Regions from separate parts of the Homo sapiens genome. Here region 1 is linked to region 2. Evidence: fine-mapped expression QTL. A gene starts in region 2. The other region holds a variant in brackets. All regions are shown on one strand. Distances are between the middles of the regions. Region 1 overlaps WDR59 (WD repeat domain 59). Region 2 holds the start of FA2H (fatty acid 2-hydroxylase).

What was found. PIP is the estimated chance that this variant, and not a neighbour inherited with it, causes the effect. A credible set is the group of variants that fine-mapping cannot tell apart.
Region 1: its variant is the best candidate, but not a certain one, in a credible set for the expression of FA2H in whole blood (TOPMed, PIP 0.61).

The regions. Positions count from the first base shown.
Region 1 is chr16:74,891,186-74,895,579 of GRCh38, reverse strand. It overlaps WDR59 (WD repeat domain 59), which reads left to right. Exons shown (of 26, transcript NM_030581.4): 19 at 1,768-1,901; 20 at 3,015-3,096. Among named protein-coding and RNA genes, the nearest start is that of WDR59, 92 kb to the left of the region's middle. The variant T/C (reference allele first, on the strand shown) is at 2,531.
Region 2 is chr16:74,773,037-74,777,430 of GRCh38, reverse strand. It overlaps FA2H (fatty acid 2-hydroxylase), which reads left to right and starts at 2,611. Exons shown (of 7, transcript NM_024306.5): 1 at 2,611-2,945. The coding sequence starts at 2,676. RefSeq lists silencers at 2,305-2,364, 2,375-2,504, 2,515-2,884, 2,925-2,974.

The DNA of each region.
Region 1 (4,394 bases), 120 kb before region 2:
TTCTTAAGATCAAATGGGGCCGGGCGTGGTGGCTCATGCCTGTAATCTTAGCATTTTGGGAGGCCAAGGTGGGTGAATCACTTGAGGTCAGGAGTTCAAGACCAGCCTGGCCAATATGGTGAAACCCTGTCTCTACTAAAAATACAAAAATTAGCTGAGTATGATGGTGCATGCCTGTAATCCCAGCTACTCGGGAGGCTGAGGCAGGAGAATCACTTGAACCCCGGAGGCGGAGATTTCAGTGAGCCAAGATCACACCACTGCACTCCAGCCTCAGCAACAGAGCAAGACTCTGTCTCAAAAGAAAAAAAAATAAAAAGATCAAACGGGTTAAAGTTCCAAATTGATAGTGTAACATGCATTTACAAATGATGATAAACAGTTCACAGATACTTCAGCTAAACTTCTTCATTTACCTGCCCTGAACTAACTCCACATGTCCTGAATTTAGTAGGTTCCAAGACACATGATAACCCTATAGGAAGTTACATGCATTGGACAACTTTAGGTATTAAATGGGATATCAGTGGTCAGAAACCCTTTATGGAAGAATGATTGTATAAAAATCACTTACAGAAAATGAATTTATTTGTGAGTAATCTAAATAATGGTCCAATTTAAATTCCTGAGAGTTTATATACATTCATAATAGTTACATGTTTCTAGAGTACACTTTTCCATTTAATTTGCACCCCTGCCTCTTCATTGTACGCTCATTAATCTTGTGAGATTGGAACAACAGAGGTCATGATTGGCCATAAGTTGTCAGTGAGCAAACAAAGTCACATGCCTTAGACTAAATTCATAACAAATAAAAACTTGCCGAGGGTCCTGCTGAGCCAGTACATGTAGTAGTAAGACCTGGAAATCTTGATTTTCTAATTCCAAATTGGAGGCCTTTTTACTAGCTCCTTTTGCCTTTTTTTGTTAATAAATATGTCACTCCTTCCTTAGTTGAATCACTTTGGTGACCCCCTTTTTAACTTCTGGCAATAAAATGGAATCCTGCTCCTTGGTTTGTCATTTTAAAGATTCCAGATGGGGCTGTGCTCTGATAATTCAAGTTTTTCAGGACATCTCTCATTTCACACATACAGGCTCCTCACACATGTAGCCACCCATAGGTAAGCCTGGGGAAATCGAATACTTGCCCACAATCTTCCATGTCTGTTACCCAAGCCCCTTGAATCAGGTATTTTTGACATTGAGAACGATCACTTTTAGAAATAATTCAAGTCTGCCAGAAAAACGGGGTAATTCTCCTCAAGGTGCAAAGTTTCTCTGTTTTCCTACCATATAGATTAAGGTTTGCAGAGCCCACACTGCTATGTCTGCAATAAATTTTCAACAAACCCTGTTCAAACTGCCTAAGGAAAAAAATTTTGATGAGTTTCAGGCAGGAATTTTGAACCTAGGACTGAATTCAATCTAAAAATTGTTCTCCCACATTTTTGTGGCCTTTACTAACTTATTTACTTGCTGTTTTCAAATTCATTAATTAATGTATTAATCCTGGCTTCCTGATATGTGTTTTTGAGCACCTGCAGAATGTATCTAGCCTGGCAGTAGGTGCTTATTTTCCTGTTAGGATTTTTGGAACAAGAGCTCATCCTTTTATTTCCTACAGATGCTGATTCCCATAATTGTGGGCATGATGTAATTTTTAAAAAGTGCAAATTGCCAATGACCCCAATATGATGAGCTCTGCAATTGTTGGTTTCCACTTGTCAAAGTCCCCATTAGTTACATCCTGTCATCTACCCCTAGAAATCAAGACGATGGAAAAGTAAGCGTGAGGGATCAGACTCTGGCAATCGACAGATCAAGGCTGCTGGGAAAGTCATCATCCAGGATATTGCTTGCCTCCTGCCTGTTCACAAATCGCTGGGAGAGCTGTACATGTAAGTACAAAATTTCAAGTCTGCTGCACTCATCATTTAGCCAGGATTAGCAAAACTTTTTTTTTTTTTGAGTGTGGGAATCCTTTCTTCAAAAGCAGTTTTAGGAAAAGCCCAATGTATTAGCTTTCTGTTGCTGTGGACAAATTCCCACAAACTTAGCAGCTTCCAACAACATTCATTTCTTATCTTCCAGTTTTTGTGGGTCGCGAGTCTGGACACAGCTTTTCTGTGTCCTTGCTTAGGGTCTCAGCAGGCTGAAATGGTGTTGGCCAGGCAGTGGTCTCATCCGATGCAAAGCTCCTCTTCCAAGCTTGTTCAGGTTGTCAGCAGAATTCAGACCCTTGCAGCTGTAGAACTCATCTGTAAATTTCGTCTTGAGACCAGCAGGAATGGCTCACACATGCTTTACCTTCCCTCTAAGGCCTCACCTGATGAGGTCAGCCCCACCCAGGATAGTCTCTCTGTAGGTGACTTCAAAGTCAATTGCTTAATAACATAATCACAGAAGTGATATCCCATCAATATTCACTGGTGTCACCCACATTCAAAGGGGGTGGAGTATTGTACAAGGCATGCTACTTTACAAAGCAGAAGAGCTGTTATGCAAAGCAGGGCTACTTTTGTTTGGA[T/C]GGAAGTGAGAGGTGAGTAATTGGCATGCAGAGGCCACCTGTAGTTCCCCTGCCTCTTCCTAAACTCGAACTCATAACAGAAAGTGTTTCCTTTGTAGTCTACACACAGCACACTACTCTTTCTGTTAGGAACCATAGTCAGTGTCGCATGTATTTCAATTCATTTTTATTCAACCCTCACGGCTTGGGAACTCCATAGAAAAGCTGGTTGGTAAATTGGTATTTGAGTATGGCCTGCCCTCCTGACTTTAAAGAGGTGTGCAATTTCAAGTTCCCCAGGCTGGAACCCACAGATGTATTAGCTTCAGCTCTAGTTAAGCTTTTCCTCTGAGTCAGATAGAAAGGGGGCCCAAGGCCAACGCGGAATAAAACATTTTGAGTGATAACCAAAGAGTCAGGTTCTCATCTGTCTGTTAAACTGGGAGTCGTTGATTTGGGAAGTTACACTAGAAAGAAATGTTTAATTCTTTTTAAAAAATTTCAGATTGAATGTGAATGATATTCAGGAAACATGTCAGAAGAATGCCGCCTCTGCCTTGCTCGTTGGAAGAAAGGATCTTGTCCAGGTATTGTCCATCCCTTTTGGTGGAGATTTGGATTTTTCTTCAGGAGCAAATTGTTTTTACTTTGTCATTGGCATTTAATGACATTTTCAAAGTGTGTGTCTTAATTTGGAATTCATTTTCCATTTTCTTTGCCAGTCTGTAGGGTTAGAGTGGCTTTCCAAATGCTGGAAATTTTTTCTTTTTGGTGCTCAGTTGGGAAGGTCCTAAAGCATCGATGAATTTTTTTAATTATACATCTCTTTTCTGTTCCAGTATCAGTGATTGCTGTGTAGCTAAACTTGCATGTCTATTTCTTTGTCATTTGTTCCTTCTTTCTAAAATGCTTCATTTTATGAAATATTTACCAAAGTGCTCCTTTAGATAGAGATGTTCAGTTTTAAAATATGATTTAACATGACAAATATTTAAATTTTCTTCATCTTTGCAGCAACATATCAGTGTATTATAACAAATTATCTCTGTATTTTTTTAAACGGCTTAACTGAGATATAGCCCATCTACCATGCAATTTGCCCATTTAAAATACACCATTCAGTGGTTTGTTTTTGTTTTTGTTTTTTTTGATGGAGTTTCACTCTGTCGCCCAGGCTAGAGTGCAGTGGCACGATCTCAGCTCACCACAACCTCCGCCTCCCGGGTTCAAGCGATTCTCCTGCCTCAGCCTCCCGAGTAGCGGGGATTATAGATGCGTGCCACCAAACCCGGCTAATTTTTGTACTTTTTAGTAGAGATGGGGTTTCACCATGTTGGCCAGGCTAGTCTTGAACTCCTGGCCTCAAGTGATCCTTCTGCCTTGGCCTCCCAAAGTGTTGGGATTACAGGCGTGAGCCACCACACCCAGTCTTTTTGTTCTTTATGCTCATGTTGAAGATATGTTTACTGTTTTGCAAAGAGTTGCAGAAGTAAATGCAAGAGTCACTGTTTCTGTTGAAGGCATTCAGGAAATGTGTATTATCAGTGAGGAAATAACACGTCTAAATTGTCAGCCAGGGTAGTAAACATCTTATCTCATCCCAGAAAGTCATTAACTTCCTCTAGTGCTGATTCACTAGGTTATTGATTATAGAGATGAATGTGAACTTCAAGTTTCTCCTTTTCGACAATACCTTCTGTATATTTTTCAAGTATGTTGGTGCCACGTGATTTAATTGATTTTGCATGCCTAATGCTTCTCGACCTGTTTCTCAGTATCTTTGTTTGCTTATTCTTTCTCCTTAGATTGTAAACTCCTTGATTCAAAGTCCATATCTTCTTTCTTTTGAGCATCTCAGAGTCTAGTATGTTTTCCAGTTAATGGG
Region 2 (4,394 bases):
CCCCAGCCTTTACTCCTGTAGGCCCCTACTTCCCCTTCTGTAATGGAGACAGTGTTCTCTGTTCTCCCCTCAGGTCCTTCCCCAGGGCCCAGGATTAGAGTGAGGGAGTGAGGCACTAACCCTGAGAGCAAAATCTACAGGCATGCCAAAAAACAAACAAAAAAAAGTAACCAAGATAAATAATATTTTAATGCAGTATTGTAAAACTTCAAGATTAATGCAAAAAAATCCATGATGGACAAAATATCAAAATTTTAAATAAAAACAGGAGCTAACCCTGCACTTTCACATCCCTGTCTCAGGAATCCCTGGCCCTGGTTCCAATAAAACTTTATTTACAAAAACAGGTGGCCAATGCCACGCCCCCAACCCCACCCCTCACCCCTGTCTTTTGACAATGTGATTTTTTAAAACATTCTTAAATATTTTGTATTGCGGTAAAATATACATAATATAAATTTACCATTCCAACCATTTTCAGTGTACAGTTCAGTGGCATTAAGAACATTCACATTGTGCAACAAAATAATTTTTTTTTTGAGACAGAGTCTCTCTTTCTCGCCAGGCTGGAGTGTGGTGGGGCGTTCTCGGCTCACTGCAACCTCCAACTCCCAGATTCAAGCGATTCCCCTGCCTCAGCCTCCCAAGTAGCTAGGACTACAGATGCGTGCCTCCACAGCCAGCTAATTTTTGTATTTTTAGTAGAGATGGGGTTTCACTATGTTGGCCAAGATGGTCTCGATCTCTTGACCTCGTGATTCGCCCACCTCGGCCTCCCAAAGTGCTGGGATTACAGGTGTGAGTTACCGCACCCAGCCAACAATATAATTTTTTAAATATTACGTTCAGGTATTAGATATAGTGATGACTGAGTTTTGGGGTGCCCCATTAAATTTTGCCCTCGAACATTATTAAAAAGTCAAGAAACAGTAGATGTCTGCGTGTATGTAGTGAAAGGGGGATGCTTATGCTATGCACTGCTGGTGGGAATGTAAATTAGTACAACTTGTTTGGAAAACAGTACAGAGATTCTTTAACAAACTAAAAGTACACTTTGGGGCTGGGCGCGGTGGCTCACGCCTGTAATCCCAGCATTTTGGGAGGCTGCGGCGGGAGGATCACTAGAGGCCAGGAGTTCGAGACCAACCTGGCCAACATGGTGAAACCCCGTCTCTACTAAAAATACAAAAAAATTAGCCGGGCGTGGTGGCACGCGCCTATAGTCATAGCTACTCTGGAGGCTGAGGCAGGAGAATCGCTTGAACCCGGGAGGCGGAGGTAGCAGTGAGCTGAGATTGTGCCACTGCACTTCAGCCTGGGCAACAGAGTGAGACTCTGTCTCAAAAAAAAAAAAAAAAAGTGCACTATGGGAGGCCATGGCAGGCAAATCGCTTGAGCCCAGGAGTTTGAGACCATCCTGGGCAGCATGGTGAAACCTCGTCTCTACAAAAAATACAAAAATTAGCCAGGCGTAGTGGTGCATGCCTGTAGTGCCAGCTACTTGGGAGGCTGAGGTAAGAGGATTGCTTGAGCCCGGGAGGTCGAGGCTGCAGTGAACCAAGATCGCACCACTACTCTCCAGCCTGGGTGACAGAGTGAGACCTTGTCACGGGAAGGGAAGGGAAAGGAAGGGAAGGGGAGGGGAGGGGAGGGGAGGAGAGAAAAAGTAGATTCACCATTCGGTCCAGCAATCCCACCACTGGGTATCTACCCAAAGGAAAAGAGTCATTATATGAAAAAGACACTTGCACACGAATGTTTGTTTTTTGCAGCCCAATTCACAATCGAAAAGATATGGAACCAACTTAAATAACCATCAACCAATGAGTGGATAAAGAAAATGTAGTTGATATACACGATAGAATACTACTCAGCCATAAAAAGGAACGAAATGAAGTCTTTTGCAGCAACTTGCATGGAGCTGGAGGCCATTATTCTAAGTGAAAGTGATTCAGGAATGGAAAACCAAACACTGTATGTTCTCACTCATAAGTAGGAACTAAGCTATGAGGACGCAAAGGCATACAGAGTGATATAATGGACAATAGGGAGAATGGGAGGGGGTGTAACACACACACACACACAAAACCCTACACATTGGGTATAATGTACACTACTCGGGGGACAGGTGGACTAAAATCTCAGGACTTACCACTATACAATTCCTCCATGTAACCAAAAACCACTGGTACCCCAAAAGCTACTGAAATTTTAAAAACAAACAAATATTTGCACCCGAGGCGAGCACCTCATTCGCCTCTCGCTCTCTCGGGCACCTCCTGGAGCCAGAGGGTCCCATGCGGCCAGCTCCTCCGTGGAAGCAGTTGAAGTTATTCCAGCAGCGATCAGGCCACCGAGGATGTCCGCCCAGACAACCACCCGCGACGGGGAGACTCGCTCCGCCTGTGTCCGCCCACCCTCCTCCCGCGCGGGACACACCTGGCGGGCGCGGCACTCCCTGTCCGCGGCCACCTGGCGCGCAGCTCCCGGCGCCGGGCCCGCCCCTCGCGGCTCTGCCGGGGCTCCCGGCCGGCCAATGGGAGCGCGGTATGCAAATGAGCAGGTGCGGTGGCGGCCCGCCCGGAACGGCCGCGGGGCTCCCGGGATGTTAGAGGCGCTCAGGGTGGCAGCAGAGCAGACGCCGGGCTGCGCGCTGGGAGCTGCGGTCTCCGGCCATGGCCCCCGCTCCGCCCCCCGCCGCCTCCTTCTCGCCCTCCGAGGTCCAGCGGCGCCTGGCGGCCGGCGCGTGCTGGGTCCGCCGCGGGGCCCGCCTCTACGACCTCTCCAGCTTCGTGCGGCACCACCCGGGGGGCGAGCAGCTGCTGCGGGCCAGGGCGGGCCAGGACATCAGCGCCGACCTGGACGGGCCGCCGCACAGGCACTCGGCCAACGCGCGCCGCTGGCTGGAGCAGTACTACGTGGGAGAGCTCCGCGGGGAGCAGCAGGTACAGCCGGGCCGGGGCCCCCCACCCCAACCCAGGCCTCCGTCAGCCTTCCACTCCCGGGCGAGCCCCGTTCACTTGCCCTCTAGCAGGACCCAAGGTGACAGCTTCTGCCCTCCCTTCCCTCGCTTTCCCTCTCTTCTCTCCAGGCAACAGGTCACTGTCGTCCCCTCCAACCCCTCCTTCCTCTCTCCAGGAACTTGCTCTTCCTTTCCACCCTTACCGCCTGGCCCGCCTCCGTGCCAGCTCTCCCATTTCCCCAGCACCCCTCCTTCCAGCGTGTTCCTTCTGCAGCCCCTGCCCTCCGACAACCTGGATTCCCGTTTCTGTCCCCAGCCCCCCATACGCCTCGGCTTTCCTTCCTCTTCACTTATCGGCCTCTCCCTCTTTGCAACCACTCTCCGTTTCTGTTTGGATAATGGGCTCAACCTGTTCCCACCTCCCCATCCCACCTCACTTCTGCTTCAAAGAGGCACAGATCAGTAACTCTTCTCACTAGCTTGGGTTTCCTGGTGCCGCCCTGGCCTTGCCTGGGCCATGTCTGGGGTGGACTGTGTCCTCCAACCTCTCAGACCTTCCCTTATATTCTTGTCCTACACGCTGGCTTGGGACTCCAAAAGAGTGAAATGAAAGGCATGAGCCAGTTTTGCCAAGGAAAAGGGACCAGCACTTTGGACCAGACTGTGTGCTGAGCTGCACGCTTCTGTGCAGTACCAGCTCCCGATGGTATTTAAGTCCTTAACTCAACCTGGGGCAGGTTTTGTTATTCCCATTTCAGGATATGGAATCTGAGGCTCAGGGAGGCTCTGATTAATGCGCCTAAGGTCAAATAGCTAAATAGTGGGAAAGCCACATGTATCTGACTCCAAAATCAATGCTGGCTCCATCCCAAAAGTCTTCGGGTGGAGGAGACAGACCTAGTCCACAGGATTCCAGGTAGGCTCAGGCCAGAGGCAAAGCGACTCTCTTGATGTTCCCCAGGCCTGGCTCTGGGACTGGTATGGGGCCATCATGCTTAGATATACAGTAGTTCCCCCTTGTCCAAGGGGATACATTTCAAGACCCTCAGTGGATCCTTAAAACCACAGATAGTACCGAATCCTATATATGCTATGTTTTTTCCCATATATGCATATCTATGATAAAGTTAAATTTATAAATTAAGAACAATAGGAAGAGATTAACAACAACAATAATAGAATAGTTACAACAATATACTGTAATAAGAGCTATTTGTATGTGGTCCCTTTCTCTCAAAACATCTTATAGTACTGTACTCACTCTTCTTGTGATAATGTAAGATGATAACATGAGGCCAGGCAAAGTGGCTGACATCTGTAATCCTAGCACTTTGGGAGGCCGAGGTAAGAGGATCGCTCGAGCCCAGGAGTTCAAGACCAGCCTGGGCAACATAGGGAGACCTTGTGTCTACAAAAAATACCAAAATTAGCC